7 linked regions of the Homo sapiens genome follow. The protein of the gene in region 1 purifies or fractionates together with the protein of each later gene. This does not show direct contact. Each region holds a gene or a part of one and is shown in the gene's direction. Other genes may lie near its edges.

Region 1 (3,500 bases):
GGTAATAGTGATCAATTCTGCCACTAACATAGCAGTGGGAATATCAAGGAGGGCTTTATAGAAGAGGTGACATTTGAGTGGGTGTCATTGTTTAATAGAACTTTTTGTATTAATGTTGCTGGTGCGGATATTTCATTTCCTTTTTTTTTTTTTTTTTTTTTTTTTTTGAGATGGAGTCTCACTCTCTTTCCCAGGCTAGAGTGCAGTGGTGCAGTCTCGGCTCACTACAACCTCCACTTCCCAGGTTCGAGTGATTCTCCCACCGCAGCCTCCCGAGTAGCTGGGATTATAGGCATGAGCCACTGTGCCCAGCCTCAGAGTGTACCCTTTAAAAAATTATTTTAAAAAAATTTTACCTCTTGACTCTGAAATATATTGAGAGGTCTTCCCCCAATGAGATAAAAATGAACAAGTGTGTAAACAGTTAAGAAGTTTTTTCTCAAGCTAATTTTTTTTTTTTTTTTTTGAGACAGAGTCTTGCTCTGTCACCCAGGCTGGAGGGCAGTGGCGCGATCTCCCCGGCTCACTGCAAGCTCCGCCTCCCGGGTTCACGCCATTCTCCTGCCTCAGCCTTCCGAGTAGCTGGGACTACAGGCGCCCACCACCTTGCCCGGCTAATTTTTTGTATATTTAGTAGAGACAGGGTTTCACCGTGTTAGCCAGGATGGTCTTGATCTCCTGACCTCGTGATCCGCCCGCCTCGGCCTCCCAAAGTGCTGGGATTACAGGCCTGAGCCACCGTGCCGGGCCAAATGTTTTTTTTTTTTTTTTTGAGACGGAGTTTCGCTCTTGTTACCCAGGCTGGAGTGCAGTGTCGTTATCTTGGCTCACTACAATCTTCACCTCCTGGGTTCAACCAATTCTCCTACCTCAGCGTCCTGAGTAGCTGGGATTACAAGCGCCTGCTATCAAGGCCGGCTAATTTTTTGAATTTTTGTTTGTTTGCTTGTTTGTTTTGTGTTTTTGGGAGACAGAGTCTTGCTCTGTCATCCAGGCTGGAGTGCGGTGGCATGATCTCGGCTCACTGAAACCTCTGCCTCCCGGTTTCAAACCATTCTCCTGCCTCAGCCTCCTGAGTAGACAGGTGCGTGCCACCACGCCCAGCTAATTGTATTTTTAGTAGAGACGGGGTTTCGCCATGTTGCCCAGGCTGTTCTCGAACTCCTGACCTCAGATTATCCACCTGCCTCGCCCTCCCAAAGATTTGGGGTTACAGGCGTGAACCACGGTGCCCGGCCTAATTTTTTGTATTTTTAGTACATACGGGGTTTCATTATGTTTGCCAGGCTGGTCTCTAACTCATGACCTCAGGTGGTCCATCTGCCTGGGGCTCTCAAAGTGCAGGGATTACAGGTGTGAGCCACCACGCCTGGCCTCTCAACCTGATTTTTATTTTTAGTAGACACATTGGTGATGAGACAATCAAATGTTCGCATTGATGAGAAAAGGCAGAAATGATTTTTGTTCTCTGGATTCTTGAAATAAAATTTTTTCCAAAGGACAAGAAGATCCCATCCCAGTAAGGCAATGCAAGAACCTGCAAGCAAAATGTACCTGAGACTCACAGTGGGGTACAAAGTGTCTCCTGGGAAGGTGGTCACTGAGTAATTTAATAGGCAGGATGGGGATGACAGAATATTTTGAGTGATATTATGGTCTGACTTGACAGTGGAGTCAGACATGTTTGTGTCCCAATCAGCACTGCCACTTCCTGAGTTTGTCACCTTGGAAAGATTTTTTCACTTATTTCAATTTCAGTTTTTTTTTTTTTTTTTTTTTTTGAGACAGAGTCTAGCTCTGTCGCCCAGGCTGGAGTGCAGTGGTACAATCTTGGCTCACCACAACCTCCGCCTCCCGGGTTCAAGCTGTTCTCCTGCCTCAGCCTCCTGAGTAGCTGGGATTACAGGCGCCCACCAGCATGCCCAGCTAATTTTTCTATTTTTAGTAGAGACGGGGTTTCACTGTGTTGGCCAGGCTGGTCTGGAACTCCTGACCTTATGATCTGCCCACCTCAGCTTCCCAAAGTGCTGGGATTACAAGCGTGAGCCACCACGCCCGGCCCAATTTCAGTTTTTTAATAACTGTAAATTACATTTCATCAGAAGAGCTTAAAAGATGTTTAAAAAGTCAACGACTATGAAAGGTATATTTCAGAAAAATCTAGTGATATGTTTTATTTGTTAAATTTATGTTTTTTTCTGGTTGTGTAATTTTAAATAGAACCCCAGGGGTTTGCTTTGAGAATGCTACCAGAGAAGAGAAATAGGAAAAATCTTTTTTCCATTATGGCTATACAAAGTGAATACATTTCCACAAGCAAATATGATAGATTAATTGGTGCATTGTATATATTTCTCAAACCATCAGCTCCTCTTTTTTTCAAAGTCTAGAATTTGTAATGGTGGATATCTCTGTTCTGTATTCTGTTGTCTAGATATCCAAGTTTAATGCAAAATTTTATGACATGGAACTTGACACTTTCTAGAAATGTTCACATATGGTTGTTTATTAAATTATCTCTCATGGAAATATTTAAATGACATGTTTATTGTCTGAAAAGGACAGATATTTAAGCTTTTTTTTTTTTTTTTTCTTTTTTTTTGAGAAAGAGTCTCGTTCTTTTGCCCAGGCTGGAGTGCAGTGGTACAATCTTGGCTCACTACAACCTTCACCTCGCAGGTTCAAGCGATTCTCCTGCCTCAGCCTCCCTAGTAGCTGGGATTACAGGTACACACCACCAGGCCCATCTAATTTTTCTATATTTAGTAGAGACAGGGTTTCACCATGTTGGCCAGGCTGTTCTCAAACTCCTGACCTCAGCCAATCCGCCCGCCTCAACCTCTTAAAGTGATGGGATTACAGGTGTGAGCCATTGTGCTTGGCCCCCTTTAACTATTTTATGTGACTCTTCTCTCTTACCTGAACGTTGCCCAAAAAGAGATTGTGACATATATTTGGGCCCAGCACCAAGGTGATGTAACTCTCCTCTTCAGCCGGGCCTTGCCCACAGAAGAGAGAATGACTTATTCCTGAGTTTAGCATACAGGTGATTTGATTCTTCTGCTGACTCCCAGAAGTCACTGTAACATATATCTGGGTCCATCGCTGAGACTGTGTGACTCTCTTCTCCCTGGGACCTGTCCACAGTGGGGATTGTGACGTATTGCTTGGCCAAGCACCTACGTGATATGACTCTTTTCTTAGGCCTGGGCCCTACCCACTGGAGTGATTTTGACACATTGCTGGGCCTAGCTCAAAGGTTATATGTGACTTCACACTTCTTCCTGGGCCCTACCCATGAGGGGCACTGTGTCTTAACTCTGAGACACTTAATTAGGTGATGTGACTCTCTTTTTTCGAGATGGAGTCTGGCTCTGTCACCCAGGCTGGAGTGCAGTGGCAAAATCTTGGCTCACTGCAACCTCCACCTCCTGGGTTCAAGTGATTCAACTGCCTCAGCCTCATGAGTAGCTGGGATTATAGGCATGCACCGCCACAGT
Region 2 (3,500 bases), on another chromosome or scaffold:
GGATGTGTTCTATGTATTTTATTTTATTTTATTTTATTTTATTTTATTTTATTTTATTTTATTTTATTTTGAGACAGAGTCTCGCTCTGTCGCCAGGCTGGAGTGCAGTGGCAGGATCTCGGCTCACTGCAACCTCCCCCTCCTGGGTCCAAGTGATTCTCATGCCTCAGCCTCCCAAGTAGCTGAGACTACAGGCACATGCCACCACATGCAGCTAATTTTCGTATTTTTTTTTTTTAGTAGAGACAGGGTTTCACCATGTTGGCCAGGATGGTCTCGATCTCTTGACCTCGTGATCTGCCCGCCTTGGCCTTCCAAAGTGCTGGGATTACAGGCATGAGCCACTGCACCTGGCCGATGTGTTCTGTTTGAAATCTTACTCAAAAGTATTTGAAGAGTTGTGTATAGTTGTATGGATATGTCTGTAGTAAACAGAAACAAATTGCTTCAGTTTCTCTTTACTTATTTTCTAGGTTACAGTACCTTTACCAGCATCGCAGCTTTCCTTGCCTAATTTTGGATCTACAGGGCAACCTCTAATTGCTTTGCCTCAGACTCTTCAGCCCCCATTACAGCATACCACTCCCCAAGCACAGGCTCAGAGTCTGAGTCGTCCTGCACAAGTAAGCCAGCCTTTCAGAGGATTAATTCCTGCTGGAACACAGCATAGCATGATTGCAACCACAGGAAAAGTAAGTAAAGAGACATTTGCACAGGTTATTTGAGAATTTAAGGTAGTGTGTTCAGATATATGCATCTGTGTTATCTAAAAAACTAAAATGCGTCAGTTTTTACCACCCTGCAAAAATCTCAAACCCCAGTATATTTACATTTTATCTATTTACTTTTAATGTGTTTGGCCCCATCTAGTTTTTACCTAATAACAAAGAATTCACAAATTTATTGGAAGAATTGGATTTATAGTGTCTCTTGGGCTTATTTAATTATAAGTCTGTTTGGTCAGGTAATTCCATAATACTTGAAGCCTAACTATAGGAGTTTTGTACTAAGGTTCTTTGCCCTTTCCTAGATTACGTCTTCACGTATAGGACATGTAAACACAGCACTTAGCTTGTGGAATTAAAGAAATGTTAAGTTTATTTTATGCTTCTCCTCAGATGTCTGAAATGGAACTAAAAGCCTTTGGAAGTGGCATTGATATAAAACCAGGCACACCTCCAATCGCTGGTAGAAGCACCACACCAACATCTAGTCCCTTCCGGTAAAATGGGCATTTAAATTTGCTTATGAAATTCCAATTTGGTCACTATTTGTTAAATACTTATCAGTCCTGTGTGACATAATCCCTTTTCCAAGCAGAAAAGGAATTATTAAGACATTCTTTTTGATAGTTTTGTCTAAAATGTTAAGCTTTTAAATTATTTAAAATGTGTTTATTGTACTATATTTTAAGTAAATTCTTTTGTTACAGAGCAAACCTTTTTTTCTTTTATTTTTTTTGAGACAGAGTCTCACACTGTTACCCAGACTAGAGTGCAGTGCCATGATTATAGCTCACTGCAACCTCAAACACCTGGGCTCAAGCAAGCCTCCTGCCTCAGCCTCCTGAGTAGCTGGGACTACATACACGTGCCACCACACCTGGCTAATTTTTAAAAAAATATTGTCCAAGCTGGTCTCGAACCAGCCAATCTAACTGGTAACTGGTATCCTTTCTTACCTCTGCTCCTCCAATGTCTCTCTTCTACCAGAATGTTTTGGTAATCATCATAGTAAATTTTTACCAACTACCAAGTATGATGAAAATACCAAGAACGGTGTTTGCAAAAATCTAACAGCATTATTTACTTGGTATTACTATACTGACTAGTAATGGCTTCTTTCCAAGGGCTACTTCTACAAGTCCGAACAGCCAGTCCAGCAAAATGAACAGCATTGTCTACCAGAAGCAGTTCCAGTCAGCCCCTGCCACTGTGAGAATGACACAACCATTTCCTACACAGTTTGCACCCCAGGTGGGCAGACATAATTAAGAAATGAGTATTATTTACTTAAAAATAGTTGCTAATCTGATAAATTATTATCTTGCCTTATGTTAACCAGTTAAGAAGTACAGTTTTTAATAAAAAATTGTTTCTGAATTTAACAATAAATTTATTTTATAAAGATAGTCTGCGATTTATAGCCAGACATGGTAATTGTTTAGTTCTAAAGCAGACAAGAGAAATAGTTAAAAGATTCCCCACACAGCTCTGATAATGAGTCCTTTTCCTTTTAACTTTTTTTAAGGAGTTGACTTTTCAGCGAAGGGTCCCAGTGCTTGAAGTTTTCTAGGTTTAAAGTTGTTTTTTGTTGTTGTTAAGATATTTATGTGCAATTGAGATAAAATTTCCAAAAAGATGTTTTAATATATGTAAAAAATGTTGGCTTCTCTTCCCCTTGCTGATCGTATAAAAGGACTAAGAACTCTCACAAACTAGAACTGGTTCCTGAGAAATTCACATTTGTTGAATTAGTATTGATTTTATTTATCTTCAGATTACATTTGTTACAGGTGTGTGCCTTTTCTGCAACTACCTTTTGAAAAGATAGCCTAATTAAAAGTCTTTCTATCCCCCCTTCAGAATTTACAACTGAGATGCTAGGACCAACTGAAGTGCCATAGCATGCTTTGCCTAGTTTTTCTGTTAAACTCTCCAAGCATGGCCTGTTTATTCCTTGTCCTTGTTAATGGAATGGCACAATCTGTACACTTCCTTTCACTGGTAGGATGGGCACAGATTTACTCTGGGATGAGCCAACCTGGTCTAGTTGGCAGTTTTTTTTTTTTTTTTTTTTTTAACAGTTCAATGTTGTATGTTTTGTTTTTTTCACTCAGATTCTCTCCCAGCCTAACCTGGTCCCTCCATTGGTAAGAGCCCCACATACTAACACCTTCCCAGCGCCTGTTCAGAGGCCACCAATGGCACTGGCCAGTCAGATGCCTCCTCCGCTGACCACAGGCCTCATGAGCCATGCTCGTTTGCCACATGTAGCCAGGGGTCCTTGTGGATCACTATCTGGAGTCAGAGGTAATCAGGCCCAGGCTGCGTTGAAGGCTGAACAAGACATGAAGGTTAGTACAGTGTTAACAGCCAACAGATCAAGAATCTGTCTCTGAACCATGTCTTAAAATGCCTCTGGACCCATAACTGTATATCCAGGCATTCATTGTCTTAGCAGACTTAACCAAGCTAACTACTTTTATTCATTCCCCCTTTTTTTTCTTTTTTTTCCCCCATTCCCATTCCTTTCATCTTTTTTTTCTTTTTGTTTCTTTTTCTTTTTCTTTTTTTTTGCAACTGTAGTCAGGAAATGAATTAATGTCTTAAACTGTGGCCAAATGAATTGTTATCAAATAAATATTTGAGGGAGATCTGAGTTTAGATGCACACTTTTTTTTGGAATAGCAAAGAAGTAATATCAATTATTATAGACTTCCCCATTTTCTTTCTTTTTTTTTTTTTTTTTAATATATATTTTCTTCCCCCCTTTCCCCT
Region 3 (3,500 bases), on another chromosome or scaffold:
TGATTTATATAATTGTAACAAAAACAAAGTCCAAATATGAGTTGAGTTTCAGTTAACATTTTGTAATGGAAATACATTTAGAGAGAATTTTATTTTTCTTTTAGTTGTGTAAAAAACAGTTTCAGTACAGTGCCTCTTTGCGAGCACATCTTATTCGTCATACCAGAAAAGATGCACCCTCTTCATCCTCGTCCAATTCCACGTCTAATGAAGCATCGGGAACATCATCTGAGAAGGGCAGAACCAAGCGGGAATTTATATGTTCCATATGTGGAAGAACATTACCTAAATTATATTCTCTCCGAATACATATGTTAAAGCACACAGGTGTAAAGCCACATGCATGCCAGGTAAAGCTATAACGTTTATTTTGCTATTTAAAGAACATTAGAACTTAACTATGTGTGCCAAAGAGACTGGTGGGATATGTATTCTCAAGTCACTCTCATTTGTAAAATGTCAGGTAAATTTATGACTTCTTTATTGCCTAGATCAAAGGTGATTCCCTATGGTGTTTTTTAATTTGCTCTCTGAAGTTGTAATTTGAATCTATTTAAGATGTTTGTGAAAACTTACTAGGGTCCAGAGGATGTATAGGGTGAAAAATAACCAGTTTATCATCCCAGTCATTCCTTAACCTTCAACTGGACCAACCAGGACTAGAAAGGAACCCATGGCTTAAACAAATCTCTGTGGTCCGTAAAAGTCCTGCCTAAGCTGTGTTCTTCTCTAGAGCTAAGGATTGAGAGTACCTAAATGCCAAAATAAGACTCAAGGGTAGTGAATCCTGTGATTAGCCAGCTTTGGGCTATTTGAAACAGTGAAAAATTTCTAGTAGCACCTGTAGCCTTATATATGAGTATGACTCAGTTTGGGTTTTTTTGTCTGTTTTGAGACAAGGTCTTGTTCTATCTCTCAGGCTGGAATGTAGTAGCATGATCACAGCTCACTGCAGCCTCCATCTCCCAGAGGATTAAACCATCCTCCCACCTTAGCCTCCCAAGTAGCTGGGACTACAGATGTGCACCACCACGCCTGGCTAATTTTTTTAAATTTTGTGGAGATGGGGCCTAACTATGTTGCCCAGGCTGGCCTCAAACTCCTGGGCTCAAGTAGTCTTCCTACGTCAGGCTCCCAAAGTACTGGAATTATAGGCGTGAGCCACTATGCCAGGCCTGACTTAGTATTTTTATTAAAAAACAGTTTTGGAACCAATGAGATTTTTTTTCTTTCTGTATTTTAATAGTTTTTGGGGAACAGGTGGTGTTTGTTTACATGGGTAAGTTTTTTAGTAGTGTTTTCCAAATTTTGGTGTACCCATTACTTAAGCAGTATACACTATACCCAGGGTGTAGTCTTTTATGCCTCACCCCCAACTCACCCTTTCCCACAAGTCCCCAAAGTCCGTTGTATCATTCATAGCTCAGCTCCCAATTATGAGTGAGAACATACGATGTTTGGTTTTCCATTCCTAAGTTACTTCATTTAGAGTAGTGGTCTCCGGTCATTTGAACCTGGGAGGTGGTGGTTGCCGTGAGCCGAGGTGGCACCACTGCATTCCAGCCTGGACAACAAGAGCAAAATTCCATCTCAAAAAAATTAATTAATTGGCCGGGTACAGTGTGGCTCACACCTGTAATCCCAGCACTTTGGGAGGCCGAGGCAGGCGGATCACAAGGTCAGGAGATCGAGACCATCCTGGCTAACAATCCTGGCCATCTCTACTAAAAATACAAAAAATTAGCCAGGCATGGTGGCACACACCTGTAATCCCAGCTACTTGGGAGGCTGAGGCAGGAGAATTGCTTGAACCCGGGAGGCAGAGGTTGCAGTGAGCCGAGACCGCACCACTGCACTCTAGCCTGGGCGACAGAGTGAGACTCCGTCTCAAAAAAAAAAAAAAAATTAATTTTTAAAAGAGGTAGTGGTCTCCGGTTCCATCCAGGTTGCTGCAAATGCCATTATTTTGTTCATTTTTATGACTGAGTGGTATTCCATGGTATATTTATACCACATTTTCTTTATCTGCTCATTGATTTATGGGCATTTGGGCTGGTTTCATATTTTTGCAACTGAATTGTGCTGTTGTAAACATGCATGTGCAAGTATCTTTTTCATATATCAGATTTTTTAAAGACAGGGTCTTTCTTATTACCCAGGCCGGAATACAGTGGCATTATCTTAACTCAGTAAACTCGAACTCCTGGTTTCAAGCAATCCTCCTGCATCAGCTACCCGAGTAGCTAGGACTTCAGGTGTATGCCACCACACCCACCTAATTTTTTTTTTTTAAGTTTTTATAGAGACCCTGCCTTTTTATAGATCTTGCTATATTGCCCAGACTGGTCTTGAACTCCTGGTCTCAAGCTGTTCTCCCACCTGGGCCTCCCAAAGTGCTGGGATTATAGGCATAAGCCACTGTGCCTGGCCTCCAGTGAGGTTTTTTATATTTCTCTTTTTTGTTCCTTTTTATTATTTTAGAAGAGAATGGGTTGAACTCTCATGTACCCTTCACTCAACTTCAGTAGTTACCAGCTCGTGGTACATGTGTTTTATGTATACTGTTATTTACTACCCTACTCCCACCTCCACCCCCACCCTGCCAGGTTTTTGTTTTTTTTTTTTGGAGGCAGGGTCTCACTCTGTTTCCGCAGGCTGGAGTGCAGTGGCGCCATCTCAGTTCACTGCAACCTCCACCTCCCAGGTTCAAGCAATTCTCCTGCCTCAGCCTCCCGAGTAGCTGGAACTACAGGCACACGCCACCACGCCTGGCTAATTTTTTGTATTTTAGTAGAGACAGGGTTTCACCATGTTGCCCAGGCCAGTCTCGAACTCCTGAGCTCAGACAATCCAACCACCTCAGCCTCCCAAAGTGTTGGGGTTACAGGCATGAGTCACTTTGCCCAGCTCCGCCAGTTATTTTGAAGCCAAGTCCTTCCTAAGGATCACTTTATTTGTAAATTTATGGGTTTTTTGTTTTTTTTTTTTTTTTGAGACTGATTCTTGCTCTGTCACTGAGGCTGGAGTGCAGTAGCACGATCTTGGCTCACTGCAACCTCTGCCTCCTGGGTTCAAGTGATTCTCCTACCTCAGCCTCCCGAGTAGTTGGGATTACAGATGCCTGTCACCACACCTGGCTAATTTTTGTATTTTTTTTTTTAAGTAGAAACAGGGTTTCACCATGTTGACCAGGCTGGTCACGAACTCCTGACCTCAAATGATCCGCCCGTCTCAGCCTCCCAAAGTGCTGGGATTACCAGCATGAACCACCACACCCGGCCATAAATTTAAATACCAAGTATTAGTTGGGCCTCTGGTCTTCCCATGTGGCACTACTCAATATGTGTGGTCTGTGGACAATAAGTACAGAAATAGAGAGTAAGCATGTAGAAACTGTCATAGCAATTTGGCATTGTCACGTCATTTTTAACAAAAATTTTTGTGTTTAACAAAAATTTCTCCCAGTGGATTGTGGAAAAGGAAAAAAAAATAATTAGTTC
Region 4 (3,500 bases), on another chromosome or scaffold:
ACCAGCTATTTTGGTGTTTGTTTAATTGGGATAGAATACAGTGAAGAGAAGATAAGAGTTGCACTGTACAGAGTAAGGGAAGTATTTTGTGAAATTACTTGTATATGTGTGTACTGGGTCATTAGTTTTACTGTGGATTGCTATAAAAAATAAACAATTGAAATCTATTGCTCTAGATTTTACAGTATTTTACACATTGCTGTCTGCTTTCATCAGTCTCCTTACCCTAGCTCCTGCTTCCCTCTTTTTTCCCCAAAAATCAAAACCAAACCTCAAAAACCAAAAATACCTTGAAGATCATTCCCAACTGCCTAGTTGTTGGATACAGTAGTAATTTTTTCAGTTCTCTGCCTTACTTACGTCCATTTTATACTTCTGAGTCCTTTTTTAACACCTTTCTTCACTTCATAGGAGTGGTTTTCTCACTGTGTGCTCCTAGTCTTTTGTTTGTTCTCTTGATTACTCCTCTGACTTATTTTCTTGCCTTGGCCCCGTGAATGCCAGACTTGGTCATCCGTCTGTCCTCATCTTTGGAGGTGGTATTATTTGTAAATTAAGAGAATTCCTGTGTCTCTGTGATTTCAACTTTGCAGAACACTCCAAAATTTCTATCATAACTCTAAAAACAAAACCTCTCAGAGATCAATTTCCATATATTCATCTACCTAGTCATTATTACAAGTCGGGAAATTTCATCTTTGTTCTTAATTGCCTAAAATCCAAACTTAGCATCCTATTGTGACCTCCATCACCACCACATGTACACAAAAATGTACAGTAACACAGAGCAGCTTCCTTTTAATGATTCATCTTACTGCTGCTCTCTCAGGATCCACCCTTGAATTTGAAAACAGTTCTTTGATTCTTTCTTCCTTTTTGTCTCTCCCCAACTTCCACCAAATAGTCATTAAGTCCTGTGGTTTCTTTCTTTCGATTTTTGACTGTTTTCTTTCCATTTATACTTTTACCTTCCTCCTCCTTTGGTTCTTTAACCTAACACACTCTAATTTTCACCACTCCGCGTGTGTTTCCTTTTGCCTGTGGATTTATATGCACGTTAGAACCTAAGGTTTGTAGTCCCATAAATTTTGAAGAATCTGTTTTTCAACTTTTCAACTTACTATATCTAAATATAAAAGTCTCCAAAGAATTGGGTTTTGGCATTCATTCTCTTTTTTTTTTTTTCACCTTGGACATTTCTTAGATGCGTAAAGTTTCTGCAAAGTTTCATAGTTCACCAAGGACCTTTATATTTGTCCAGTCTGTTGTGTTTTATTCTCATTCTTTGAAGCAACTGCGTCATTTGCCACATTGGATCACCTTATAAGCACTGATGAATTTTATTTACTCCTTCTGAGCTCAGCCTTACTTACCAATTTATTCTTCTGTTTAGTGTAAGAACTTTCAAATGTTCATTACAACCAAACTATTTCCAGTTTTCAACTTTTTTCGTAAACCATTTGAGTTTTAATAACTTTGAAATTTTAAGATAAGGAGAAATTCATAATAATTAGTATGTGAGGGTTTGGGGTAAGAGAACCAGAGTTGTAGGAAGAGACATAAATGAGCTTTCTTTGCCAATCATATTAGGGCTAATTTTATAAATGCTTGTTGGAAAAGGTCTAGAAGGATATGTACGAAAATTTTAACAATTAATTAGGTCTAGGAAGGGGGGTATTGGGCTAGAGGACACCTGTGGATAACTTTCTTTTATATGTATTTGTTGAACATATATTACTTAGCCTTTATTTTCTTCAGTATCAAATAATTTTTGCATATGCTTTCTTATGTTGACAAGGATGCTTTTTTCTTTGCACAAACTAGAGAGCTGTAGTACACATGGATGAACGACGAGAAGAACAAATTGTACAGTTACTGAATTCTGTTCAAGCGAAGAATGATAAAGAGTCAGAAGCACAGATATCCTGGTTTGCTCCTGAGGATCATGGGTACGACAAGAAATATTTTTTTAAAGAATAGGCAAAGAGTAACACTTTAATAATAAAAATAACATCTTTATTTTCTTCGATAAGTGAATTTTAACCTTTACGTACTTTTTTTCCTTATGTAGATTAAACAGATTTAGAAAATGACTTTTAAAAATTTAGATGGCATGTTTCCATAGGAAAGCTAAATGGTATGAATAATAGTGTATCTGGATATGAGATGTATTAAGTTGTTATTTATTGTTCTCCCTACCTGTCCTCTTTGTATTTATGAAATTATTCTGTCTGGGAGATCTGCAAGAAGTGAAATTGCTACCGTTTTAGAAAGATTACAAGAACTGTATCATTTAGAGGAAAAATTAGTACAAGTATTTCAAAGACTGTGTATTGTAGCATCCTATTTGTAGCTCAGAAAGGGTGGCAAGAAAAAAAGATGTTGTGACATAAAACAAGTTCGAGAAATCCAGAAAAAGAGAAACACTGTAAGTAACCGCAGTGAAGGAATGACTATTCTGTGGATTTTTATTTTTAACTATCACAAGGAATAACTTAATCTGGCAATATCTATTTAAAGGGAAGAAAAATTTGAATTTATTATAAGAATCTAAGTATATTTTCATAATTACTGTACTAAGAGAAAAGAAAAGCTTTGGATTTGGATGACTTTGAAATATTTCAACAGCGTATTGTTTTGTTTTGTTTTGTTCCAGTGTTTGAGTGGCTCATCTGACCTTTCTTCCTTTCTTATTTTGTCAAAACAGATACGGTACTGAAGTTTCTACTAAGAACACACCATGCTCAGAGAACAAACTTGACATCCAGGAAAAGAAGTTGATAAATCAAGAAAAAAAAATGTTTAGAATCAGGAACAGATCATATATTGACCGAGATTCTGAGTATCTCTTGCAAGAAAATGAACCAGATGGAACTTTAGACCAAAAATTATTGGAAGATTTACAAAAGAAAAAAAATGACCTTCGGTATATTGAAATGCAGGTAGTAGAAAGATGTCAAAAAATATTTTGTCATTTTTTTCTTACACTTTATAAAAATGTATGTATGGTTAGAGGTAGCTGCATGGCATAGATCAGTGAGATCCTCAACAAGACATCCCTGTGGGAATTAATTTCTTTTCGAATGGTAGAGAAAAGCAGTGGGAATGGAAGTTACACATAACCTACAGTATCCTATCTCATCCACAGAAGCTTATGTGGTGAGAAGAAATGTTTGAGAAATGCTAGTGCCAATGAAAAAAAAACTTACTCTTCAGCTTTTCTAGGCCAGTTTAGTGAGGTGCCATGTGCAGTAAAGGCAGTTAAAATTGTAAAGCTTGTTCCAGATTACTTAATACATCTTCTTTTTATAGATGATAAAATTAAATATTTCAAAAATTATGTGATGTGCTTTGTTCACTAACATTTTAAATACAGGACTATCACAACACCTGAGATCTCCTGAATTCTGATATTTTCTTTCTATGCTAGGCAAGATATTTTAAGGTCCCTTTCAGTTAAAACATAAAATTGTGTGATTTGTGGGTGTTCTAGAGATGTA
Region 5 (3,500 bases), on another chromosome or scaffold:
ACATAGTTTGACTGATATCTTTTTTGTCCTCTGAACATCTTTATTGTTACAGTGGTATGCAGGAGGCATGCCTCTGGTATTAATCTGAGTTTAAATCATGGCTCTAACACTTACTGTGTGAGCCTGAACAAATTGCTTTACCCTCTCTCAACTGCACTTTTCCTGTCTATAAAATGGGGTTGTGGTATTTCATTTATAAGGAACTTGTGTGGATTAAATAGGGCATTGTGTGAAAGTACTTACAGCAGTGCCTGGCTCATTGTAGGCACTTACTTAAAACCGGCCTTTATTATTTTATTATGCATGGTCCCTAAAACAACTCTAAGATTAATAAGGAGAGTGGGCAGATTCTTGTTACTTACAAAGCTATGTCCTTCCTTCGCTTATCCTCAGATTTTTGGAAACTATTTTAACTGTTTTTTTTTTTTAGATAATTAATGATTCACAGGAAATTGCAAACATAGTCAAGTCCTTACCTTTTACCAGTTTCCCTCAGTGGCTACATCTTACATAACTATTGTATAATATCAACACCAGGAAATTGACATTGGTACAATGTATATGTAGTTATATGCTATTTTATCATATGTAGATTAGTGTAACCACCACTACAATCAAGATACAGAACTGTTCCACCACCACAAACCCTTTACAGCCTTAGGCACTCCCTCTGTCTCTCTACTGTCCCTGTCCTCTGGCAGCCACTAACCTGTTTTGTCATTTTGAGACTATTATATAAGTTGAATCATACAGTATGTGATCTTTGGAGATTGCCCTTTTTCACTCAGTGTGATGTCCCTGAGATCCATCCCTCTTTTTCATTGCCGAATAGTGTTCCATGGTATGGATGTACCATGGTTCACCTATTGAATCATTCCCGTATAAGAAAGGACATTTTGATTATTTCTAGTTTTTGGCTATTATAGATAGAGCTTCTATGAAAATTGGTGTTCAGGTTTTTGTGTGCATGTAACTTTTCATTTCTTTGGTCGTATGGTAAATACAATTAGCCCTCTGTATCCATGGGTTCCACATCAATGGATTCAGCCAACCTGGGATTGAAAATATTTTCAAAAAAACATTGTCTGTACTGGACTTGTGCAGACTTTTTTTTTCTTGTCACTGTTCCCTAAACAATACAGTATAACAATTATTTATATAGCATGTACATTGTATTAGGTATAAATAATCTGGAGATGATTTAAAATATAGGGGAGGATGTGCATAGGTTATAAGCAATTATTATGCCATTTTATATGAAGGACTTGATCATCTTGGATTTTGTTGCCCTGGGAGGCTCTGGAACCAATCCTCCATGGATACCAAGGATGACTATATATATTTATTTTGTTTGTTTGTTTTTTAAGATACTGCCAAAGTATTTTCTGGAGTGTCGGTACCATTTTACATTCCTGTCAGCGGTGTAAGAGAAATCCATTTTCTCCACATTCTTGCCAGTATCTGGTATTGTCACTATTTTTATTTTAGCAATTTTAATAGACGTGTGGTGATACATCATCATGATCTTAATTTGCATTTCCCAAATGGCTAGTGATAATACACATCTTTTCATATCATCATTTGCTGTCTATATATCCTGGTCAGTAAAATGTCTCTTTATACCTTTTGCCTATTTTCTAATTGAATTTTGTGTGTGTGTGTGTGTGTGTGTGTGTATACATATACATATATATATATATATAATTTTTTTTTTTGAGACAGAATTTCACTCTTGTTGCCCAGGCTGGAGAGCAATGGTGCAATCTCGGCTCACTGCAACCTCTGCCTCCCGGGTTCAAGCGATTCTCCTGCCTCAGCCTCCCGAATCGCTGGGATTACAGGTGCCTGCCACCACACCCAGCTACTTTTTTATATTTTTAGTAGAGACGGGGTTTCACTGTGTTGGCCAGGCTGTTCTCGAACTCCTGACCTCAGGTGATCCACCCGCCTCAGCCTCCCAAAGTGCTGGGATTTCAGGCGTGAGCCACTGCGCCCGGCCCTTGAATTGTATATTTTTTATTACTGGGTTTTGATAATTTTTTGTAGATCACAGGTGCAGCTTCTTTGTATGGTTTGCACATATTTTCTCCCAATCTGTTGCTTGTCTTTCCATCCTTTTTGTTTGTTTGCTTGTTTTTATTTTGGTTGTTTTTTTTTTTTTTTGAGATGGATTCTCACTTTGTCACCCAGGCTGGAGTGTAGTAGCACGATCCTGGCTCACTGCAACCTCCACCTCTTGGGTTCAGGCGATTCTCCTATGTCAGCCTCCCGAGTAGCTGTGATTACAGGCATCTGCCACCATGCCCGGCTAATTTTTGTGTTTTTCAGTAGAGACGGGGTTTCGCCATATTGGTCAGGCTGGTCTTGAACTCCTGACCTCAGGTGATCCGCCCGCCTTGGTCTCCCAAAGTGCTGGGATTACAGGCATGAGCCACCACGCCCAGCCTGTTTGTTTTTGTTTTTTTGGGGAGGGTCTCACTCAGTTACCCAGGCTGCAGCACAGTGATGTGATCATGGCTCACTCTAGCCTCAACCTCTGGGGCTCAAGTGATCCTCCCACCTCAACCTCCTGAGTAGCTGAGACCACACGTGTGCACCACCACACCTGGCTAATGTTTTTTTTTTTTTTTTTTTTTTTGATAGAGGCAGGGTCTCTCTGTGTTGTCCAGGCTGGTCTCAAACTCCTGGGCTTAAGTGATCCTCCCGCCTTGGCCTACCAAAGTGTTGGGATTACAGACAGGAGCCACTGTGCCTGGTCCTTTCTACCTTCTCAGTGGGATACTTCACAGAGCAAAAATTTTAAATTTTGTTGATATCCAATTTACTAAGTTTTTTTTTTTCTTTAATGGATCATGTTTTTGGCATCATATCTAACATACCAAGTCCTAGATCCCAAAGATTTTCTCCTTTGTTTTCTTCTAAAAGTTTTATAATTTTAACTTTTGTATTTTAATCTGTCATCCATTTGAGTTAATTTTGTACAGGTGTGAGGTTTAGGTCGCCATTTTTTTTCTTCTTGCCTAAGGATATCCAGTTGCTCTAGCACCTTTTGTTGAAAAGATTAATCTTCCATTGAATTGCTTTTGCACTTTTTTCAAAAATCAGTACAACCTGTAATGTAACAATGATTTTTTTTTTTTTTTTGAGACAGAGTCTCGCTCTGTGCCAGGCTGGAGTGCAGTGGTGTGATCTCAGCTCAGTGCAACCTCCACCTCCTGGGTTCATGGGAATCTTATGCCTCAGCCTCCTGAGTAGCTGGGATTACAGGCGCCCACCACCACACCCAGCTAATTTTGTATTTTTAGTAGAGATGGGGTTTCACCATGTTGGCCAGACTGGTCTCAAACTCCTGACCTCAGGTGATGTGCCTCCCACAAGTGCTGGGATTACAGGCATGAGCCACTGTGCCTGGCCTAACAATGGTTTTTACAATTTAAAATAGTTGGAACGACCTTGTAGCGCATGGAAATCATACGAAATTTAAACTGTGTCCAGAAATA
Region 6 (3,238 bases), on another chromosome or scaffold:
GGGGGGAAGGGGAGGGAGAGCAATAGGGCAAATACCCGATGCATACGGGGCTTAAAACCTAGATGATGGGTTGATAGGTGCAGCAAACCACCATGGCACATGTGTACCTATGTAACAAACCTGCACGTTCTGCACATGTATCCCAGAACTTAAGGTAAAAAAAAAAAAAAAAAAAAAAAAGAAACCTAAGTTAGTAAGAAATTAAGTCTCTACCCAGGGATATGTAGTAGAAAGTGGTAGGATTGGGGTTTGAACCCAGGCAGTTTTGACTCTATCATGTAGCTTCTTAATGATTATATTATACTGTCCCCCAAGTTGTATACTAATTGCTTCTATTATGTTTCCAGTTTTATATAGACCCATATAAGCTGCTGCCACTGCAGAGGTTTTTACCTCGACCTCCAGGTGAGAAAGGACCTCCAAGAGGTGGTGGCAGGGGAGGCCGAGGAGGAGGAAGAGGAGGAGGTGGCAGAGGTGGTGGCAGAGGCGGTAAGTTACTTGGGGAAAATTTCTAATGAAATTAACTGTGACTTTCACAGCTAATTCATACAATACAATTTAGCTTTGTACATAGCAAACCTCCCTTATGGTTCTTTTTATTAAAGCTGCTTTCCAATATTGGCAGATTGTCCATAATAATAATGCTTCATTTCAACAACTTACTTAAAAAGAAGAAAATCTACTAAAGTATACTTTTGAGGGACTTCATTTCTTTGGGTTATTCATGTTTTCTTGGACATTTTAATAAACCGTAAGATTATCTTAATTTTAATTCCTTAGTTAATATTATTGAGTGTAGACTGCATGCTGAAAGCTGGTCATACATTCTTTTAATTTCCATGTATATATTTTTAATACTCAGCGAAACCTTTTGAGATAGATGATATCCTTATTTTATGAATGAGGAAACGGAGACTTACAGAAATTAATTTGCCCCAATCAAACAATTGGCAGACCCAAGAATTAAAATGCATATCTTCTGATGTCATGTCAAGAACTATTACTAATAAATTCATTACTGTGATCTCACTGTTGTGATGTATGCCTTTCCCCCAAGGTTTTGGGGTATTTTGATGTATGCCTGTTTTGATGTATGCCTTTCCCCTAAGGTTTGGGCACATTCATCATTATGGACAGCTAGGTGATGAGCAGGGCTCTGGGGAGTGGGGCTGCCATGCCCTGTGAGTAGGAGAAGGGCGAGTGATGGGGTGATGGGCAGAGCCAAAGTGGAAAGGGAGAGGAGCTGAAAGTTGGGCTTGGACAGCTTTTGTTACTGGATCAGAAAAAGAGAAGGAACGCCTCACTTTTGGCGTTTCTCAATTTAATCACCATTTCACTCCATAAAGGTATTTTTTTGTGTCCATATAGGTAGGAAAATTCTCAGGGGTACCTTCTTGAGAATTTGATGAACAGAGATTCCCCTATTCTCATGTTATGTTGAGTATCATTTAACATTTCAAAAAATTCACAGCTGTCTTATTTTTTTAAAATCTTACTTATGTAGCTCAGTTAATCTTAACTATCATATTTATTATCTTACCCCCAGAGCAAAAGCACCCATATCTGCCACCCTTTGTTGTTAGGATAAAAAGCCACAGTTCCATCAAACTATCCTTAGTTGAATCAAAAAAGTATTTATCATAAGCAAGAGCTAAGGCAATAGTCATACATTTAACAAGACTGAATCATACTTTAACAAGTTTTTCTAATTTATTGAAATGGAATAATCTGGGGTTTTAGCCTGTTGCCCAGTTGGTAAACTACTACAGTTTCTCCATTTTTATCTTCTAAAATTTTTTCCCTGATAAAATATGTGAATCTATATTTATTCATTATAATTATAGTTATTGTATTGATCTTTTTAGGCTTATCAATATAAGAGGTTATACAGTTAATAACTTAATGATTATTATATTCTATTGTTATTTAAATACTTTGCGTTATTATTTAATAAATGTTTTTTAGGTGGTTTTAGAGGTGGAAGAGGAGGTGGAGGTGGGGGCTTCAGAGGAGGAAGAGGTGGTGGTTTCAGAGGTGAGTATTTTAAAAAGTCTTTAAATTGCTTAATGTTTAAAATTGATATTATCTGGCATTTTCTGTTTTTACTTAAGTTTAATTTTCTCTGCCAGCAAGTATATAGAACACCATGGTGTTCTTTGCTTAGCCTAATTTGTGGTTTCATTTTATATCACTTTTTTTTTGCCTTTTCTTTTCAATTTTTTCACCTAATTCTAATTTGTTTTGCTTTATTATTAATTTGAAAAATAAAGGTGTAATATGAATGACAGTTAAATTTGGTAAAGTATGTTTGCTAAACATTATTGGAACTAATGCTGATTTTAAACTTGAGATTTAGGTTATAATACTATTAAAAATCCATTTTCTGTGCCCTTAATACTTTAATTTTCTCTTAATCAGGGAGAGGACATTAAGTGAAACAGTTGACAGACATCACCAGTTGACTTCTGCATTAACCTGCATGATCTGTTTCTACTATGGATTGGAAACTTGTTTCTTGAACAAGTCTTGAAGATCTTGGTCATTTTATGACAATGGATCTAAAATGTCAGCATCATGCAAAGTGCAACGGAATAGTGAATTTTGCTCTAAAAGAGCATGAACAAGTCTTTCTAATGTTTTGTACAGTGCCTGGCACTCTGTGGGTGCTCAATAAATGGATAGGAGTTTTCATTTGAAGCATATTTGAATTTTTAAAATAAAGTGTTTTATTCCCTTAAGTTATTTAGAGTGTGTTTATTAAATGAAACCCATTTTTTAAAGTAGAAAGGAATAACTAAAGCTTAAACCCAGTGAATTGCAGATCGAAAAAAGGATTTGTTTATTTATATTACTGATCTTTTAAAAAATAGACTACTGTAGCAGTACTTTAAGATAATTTACAAGTTGACACTGCCTTTCAAAACCCTGGCCTTTTATGTATGAGAAGATAGCTTTGTATTTGCCTTTTGTATTTTAATACATAAATCAGTTAAGCTGTTTCTCTAATTGCAATTAATAATTGATTTAAAAATTTTCCATATTAGTAATGTATTAAAGATGCAGTAGCTCTGTTGAAGTGAAAACTATAGCAAGAAATTTCTAAAGTTAATTTTTCTCATCCAACATAAATGGAATATTAGAAGTTTTACTGAATGTTATTTTATTTTTACTTTTTTAAAGGGACTCTAAAAGTTTAAGGTGTTATTTACTACACGTAAATATTCGTGTAGTATACTAC
Region 7 (2,968 bases), on another chromosome or scaffold:
GTGCACTCCAGCCTGGGCAACAGAGCAAGGCTCTGTCTCAAAAGAAAAAAAAAAAGAAAAAGAAATACATGCTGTTGGAATGGTTTTGAGACAGAAAACCCTAAAATACCCAGGTCTCTGGGATCCTGAAGCAGTGCTGCCCCTCAGCACTGCCGTCATGCCAGTCCACTTAGGACTTTGGCTGTCACCATATCTAACATTTTAAATAGTCTCCATTAGGTTTGCTGACTTTCAAGCAAGTGAAAAAAAGATAATCTCCATAAAGTATTTTATATATTATACTTTAAGTTAATAGGTTCACAGTTCACACATTTTGTGTTAGAGTCCCTTCTGGCTTCCCATTGAATGTATTATCTCTTTTCTAGCCTGTACCAGAGATTAAAGTTGTGTCAAATCTGCCAGCCATAACCATGGAGGAAGTAGCCCCAGTGAGTGTTAGTGATGCAGCTCTCCTGGCCCCAGAGGAGATCAAGGTAAGAAGCCAATGTTGAAACCTTAAATGTCTGTTACAAGTTAGTTGATCATAGCCAGACTCCATTTATTTGACGTCATTTGCCTTGCACTTGTAGTTCTTATTCCAATGTATCTCAGCAGTTTCTAAGTATAAGCAAACTAGTAATGTTATAATATTCAAATACCAGTCTCCTATATTCTGGCTTTATTATGAGGTACAGGTTTGAGAGTTACTGTAAGAGCAGTTTTAAAATAGCTAGTATCAATATCTTATTATAATCCAATCTGAATACTAGCAGTGATGTTAAGTTGAAAACAAATGGCTTGCATTGCATATATACTAGCAATAGTTTAGTGTCAGCATTTCCCCCTTATTTTATTCATGTAATGCTAATTAGTAATGGAATCTGAATCTAGAATCGAGCATTTGGTTATCAGAAGAGGCTAGATATATCAAATGCAGCAATCCCTGCCATGTGAACATTGAAGCTTATGCCTTACACAGTAATAATGGTTTCTGCCAGGTGCTCATCTTCCTGGCTGGCTTAGCAGCAGGGCCTTCTTTTTCCCTCCTCACTTGATTTGCTACACCTACACTCACCCCTTCTGTCTGAGCCTCTGCCACCTCAGTGCAGGTGACAGCCCTGGCAGGATAGGCTGGCAGCTGAGGAGAAAAGAGATAGAATTGATCCTCACTAGAGAGATGTTTCCCTTCCCTTCCTCTGTTCCTTGGTCTCTGCCCTCTGGCCTCAGTCCAGTTGCTGTCATTAGCAGCTCAGAGCTGAGGCTGCCTCTGGCATGTCCCTGAAGCCCATTGGAATCTAAATGCTGTGGAGGGCTGGCTCCTCTTGTGCTGTTAGGTTGAGAACCCAACTCTCCATGTTGCCTTCTTGTGAATTAGTTTGGGAACTGAACCGTCACTATAAGAGTCTGTGCCTGTCAAAGAATGCATTTCAGGTTTTAAAGAGCTGAGTTACCAACGCTCATTGGAATGCAGGTGGGGATTGCTCTGCATCTTTGTGCATTTGGCCACAGATGCACAGCCTGCTTGCTGGCTACCCTGCAGTTTCTTCCATTCCAGTTTCCTAGTTGTTAAACTTGATGAATGAATATGTTGGTGGTTATTTTTTTAATAGGAGAAAAATAAAGCTGGAGATATAAAAACAGCTGCTGAAAAAACAGCTACAGACAAGAAACGAGAGCGAAGGAAAAAGAAATATCAAAAGCGTATGAAAATAAAAGAGAAGGAGAAGCGGAGAAAACTGCTTGAAAAGAGCAGTGTAGATCAAGCAGGGAAATACAGCAAAACAGTAGCTTCGGAGAAGTTAAAACAGCTGACCAAAACTGGCAAAGCTTCCTTCATAAAGGTAAGGACAAGGGAAAGAAAACTGCTCAAGGGGACCTTTGTGGGGGAAGTGGATAGCAAGTGCTGGGTGACTGGAATGTCTGAGCCAGCTGACAGCCCACCTGCGGGATAGAGATGCATGATGCTGACTGGCTGGAATCGCAACCTTTAATGTTCTAGAATTTTTCATGTAGGGTCCTCACAATAACCTGGGTCCTGGCAGCAGCTTGTCTTCCACTCCTTTCTCTCTTAGATTATAAGAACATTGTAGCAGTGCAGAATACCTCTATGCTAACTGATTCAGTTTTCTGTAATTCTAGTCCTTTTTCATATTTATGGTTGCATACATTGTTGTAATGGTGATGTACTATTTTTGGCTTTTTTCACTTATAAGTACATTTTACAGCATAAGCATGTGGTGTTTTTAATTGCAGGATGAAGGTAAAGACAAGGCCTTAAAGTCCTCTCAAGCATTCTTTTCTAAATTACAAGATCAAGTAAAAATGCAAATCAATGATGCAAAGAAAACAGAAAAGAAAAAGAAGAAAAGACAGGATATTTCTGTTCATAAATTAAAGCTGTAATATATTTTGAATATAATGTAAATATTAATGTGTAAGCTTATATTGTGTCATTGTTCTGTTTTATAATAAAATTCTTGAGAACCTTCCTTTGCATCGATGACAGATATTTGAGGGTTCCATAGTGTGAAAAGACAAACCCCTAACCATTTGCAAAGCCCTTCCGGTTTTCACTGGTATGAAGCAGGACCTGGCTCCTCCCCAGGCCCTTCCTGTTCAGGCACTGCCTGAGCTGATCCTGCTGTGCTCTTGCCGTGGCCCAGGCCTGTGTGAAGGCCAGGCCAGCTTGTCCACATGGGCTGGTGAGCAAGCACTGGCCTGCAGGCTGTGAAGAGGACAGAGCCAGCCAACCCCCTCACAAGCAGCTGTCTACAGCAGAGGTCCTCACTCTTTGGGCTCTTGATTTCCTTCTCCCATTGCCCTGTCATTTCATAAAACAGTAGCATTTTCATGCCTGTGCCTTCCTTCCCCTTTGGGAAATGATCTCATGTCATCTGAACAAAGGTTTAATGTAGGCTGTAGAGCACTATCCACAATCAGCTGCAGAGGACAGGTATGATGGAGAAGTGAATCTAGAAGCAACAGAAGC

Evidence for each region.
Region 2: the proteins of RPSA2 (region 1) and PRRC2C purify together in Homo sapiens (affinity purification with mass spectrometry; one large-scale study listed by BioGRID and IntAct). This does not show direct contact.
Region 3: the proteins of RPSA2 (region 1) and ZBTB11 purify together in Homo sapiens (affinity purification with mass spectrometry; one large-scale study listed by BioGRID and IntAct). This does not show direct contact.
Region 4: the proteins of RPSA2 (region 1) and DHX36 purify together in Homo sapiens (affinity purification with mass spectrometry; one large-scale study listed by BioGRID and IntAct). This does not show direct contact.
Region 5: the proteins of RPSA2 (region 1) and RSBN1 purify together in Homo sapiens (affinity purification with mass spectrometry; one large-scale study listed by BioGRID and IntAct). This does not show direct contact.
Region 6: the proteins of RPSA2 (region 1) and GAR1 purify together in Homo sapiens (affinity purification with mass spectrometry; one large-scale study listed by BioGRID and IntAct). This does not show direct contact.
Region 7: the proteins of RPSA2 (region 1) and MPHOSPH10 purify together in Homo sapiens (affinity purification with mass spectrometry; one large-scale study listed by BioGRID and IntAct). This does not show direct contact.

Annotation. Positions count from the first base shown.
Region 1 is NC_000019.10:23,766,004-23,769,503, forward strand, and holds part of RPSA2 (small ribosomal subunit protein uS2B), read left to right. Parts: intron 1-3,500. UniProt on the Homo sapiens protein: Required for the assembly and/or stability of the 40S ribosomal subunit. Required for the processing of the 20S rRNA-precursor to mature 18S rRNA in a late step of the maturation of 40S ribosomal subunits. Also functions as a cell surface receptor for laminin.
Region 2 is NC_000001.11:171,586,530-171,590,029, forward strand, and holds part of PRRC2C (protein PRRC2C), read left to right. Parts: intron 1-473; coding exon 474-692; intron 693-1,118; coding exon 1,119-1,222; intron 1,223-1,849; coding exon 1,850-1,976; intron 1,977-2,839; coding exon 2,840-3,076; intron 3,077-3,500. UniProt on the Homo sapiens protein: Required for efficient formation of stress granules.
Region 3 is NC_000003.12:101,656,633-101,660,132, reverse strand, and holds part of ZBTB11 (zinc finger and BTB domain-containing protein 11), read left to right. Parts: intron 1-104; coding exon 105-350; intron 351-3,500. UniProt on the Homo sapiens protein: May be involved in transcriptional regulation.
Region 4 is NC_000003.12:154,314,488-154,317,987, reverse strand, and holds part of DHX36 (ATP-dependent DNA/RNA helicase DHX36), read left to right. Parts: intron 1-1,824; coding exon 1,825-1,949; intron 1,950-2,707; coding exon 2,708-2,942; intron 2,943-3,500.
Region 5 is NC_000001.11:113,805,977-113,809,476, reverse strand, and holds part of RSBN1 (lysine-specific demethylase 9), read left to right. Parts: intron 1-3,500. UniProt on the Homo sapiens protein: Histone demethylase that specifically demethylates dimethylated 'Lys-20' of histone H4 (H4K20me2), thereby modulating chromosome architecture.
Region 6 is NC_000004.12:109,822,000-109,825,237, forward strand, and holds the end of GAR1 (H/ACA ribonucleoprotein complex subunit 1), read left to right. Parts: intron 1-347; coding exon 348-489; intron 490-1,965; coding exon 1,966-2,034; intron 2,035-2,418; coding exon 2,419-2,432; 3' UTR 2,433-2,738; downstream 2,739-3,238. UniProt on the Homo sapiens protein: Required for ribosome biogenesis and telomere maintenance. Part of the H/ACA small nucleolar ribonucleoprotein (H/ACA snoRNP) complex, which catalyzes pseudouridylation of rRNA.
Region 7 is NC_000002.12:71,147,634-71,150,601, forward strand, and holds the end of MPHOSPH10 (U3 small nucleolar ribonucleoprotein protein MPP10), read left to right. Parts: intron 1-365; coding exon 366-473; intron 474-1,589; coding exon 1,590-1,820; intron 1,821-2,232; coding exon 2,233-2,382; 3' UTR 2,383-2,468; downstream 2,469-2,968. UniProt on the Homo sapiens protein: Component of the 60-80S U3 small nucleolar ribonucleoprotein (U3 snoRNP). Required for the early cleavages during pre-18S ribosomal RNA processing. Part of the small subunit (SSU) processome, first precursor of the small eukaryotic ribosomal subunit.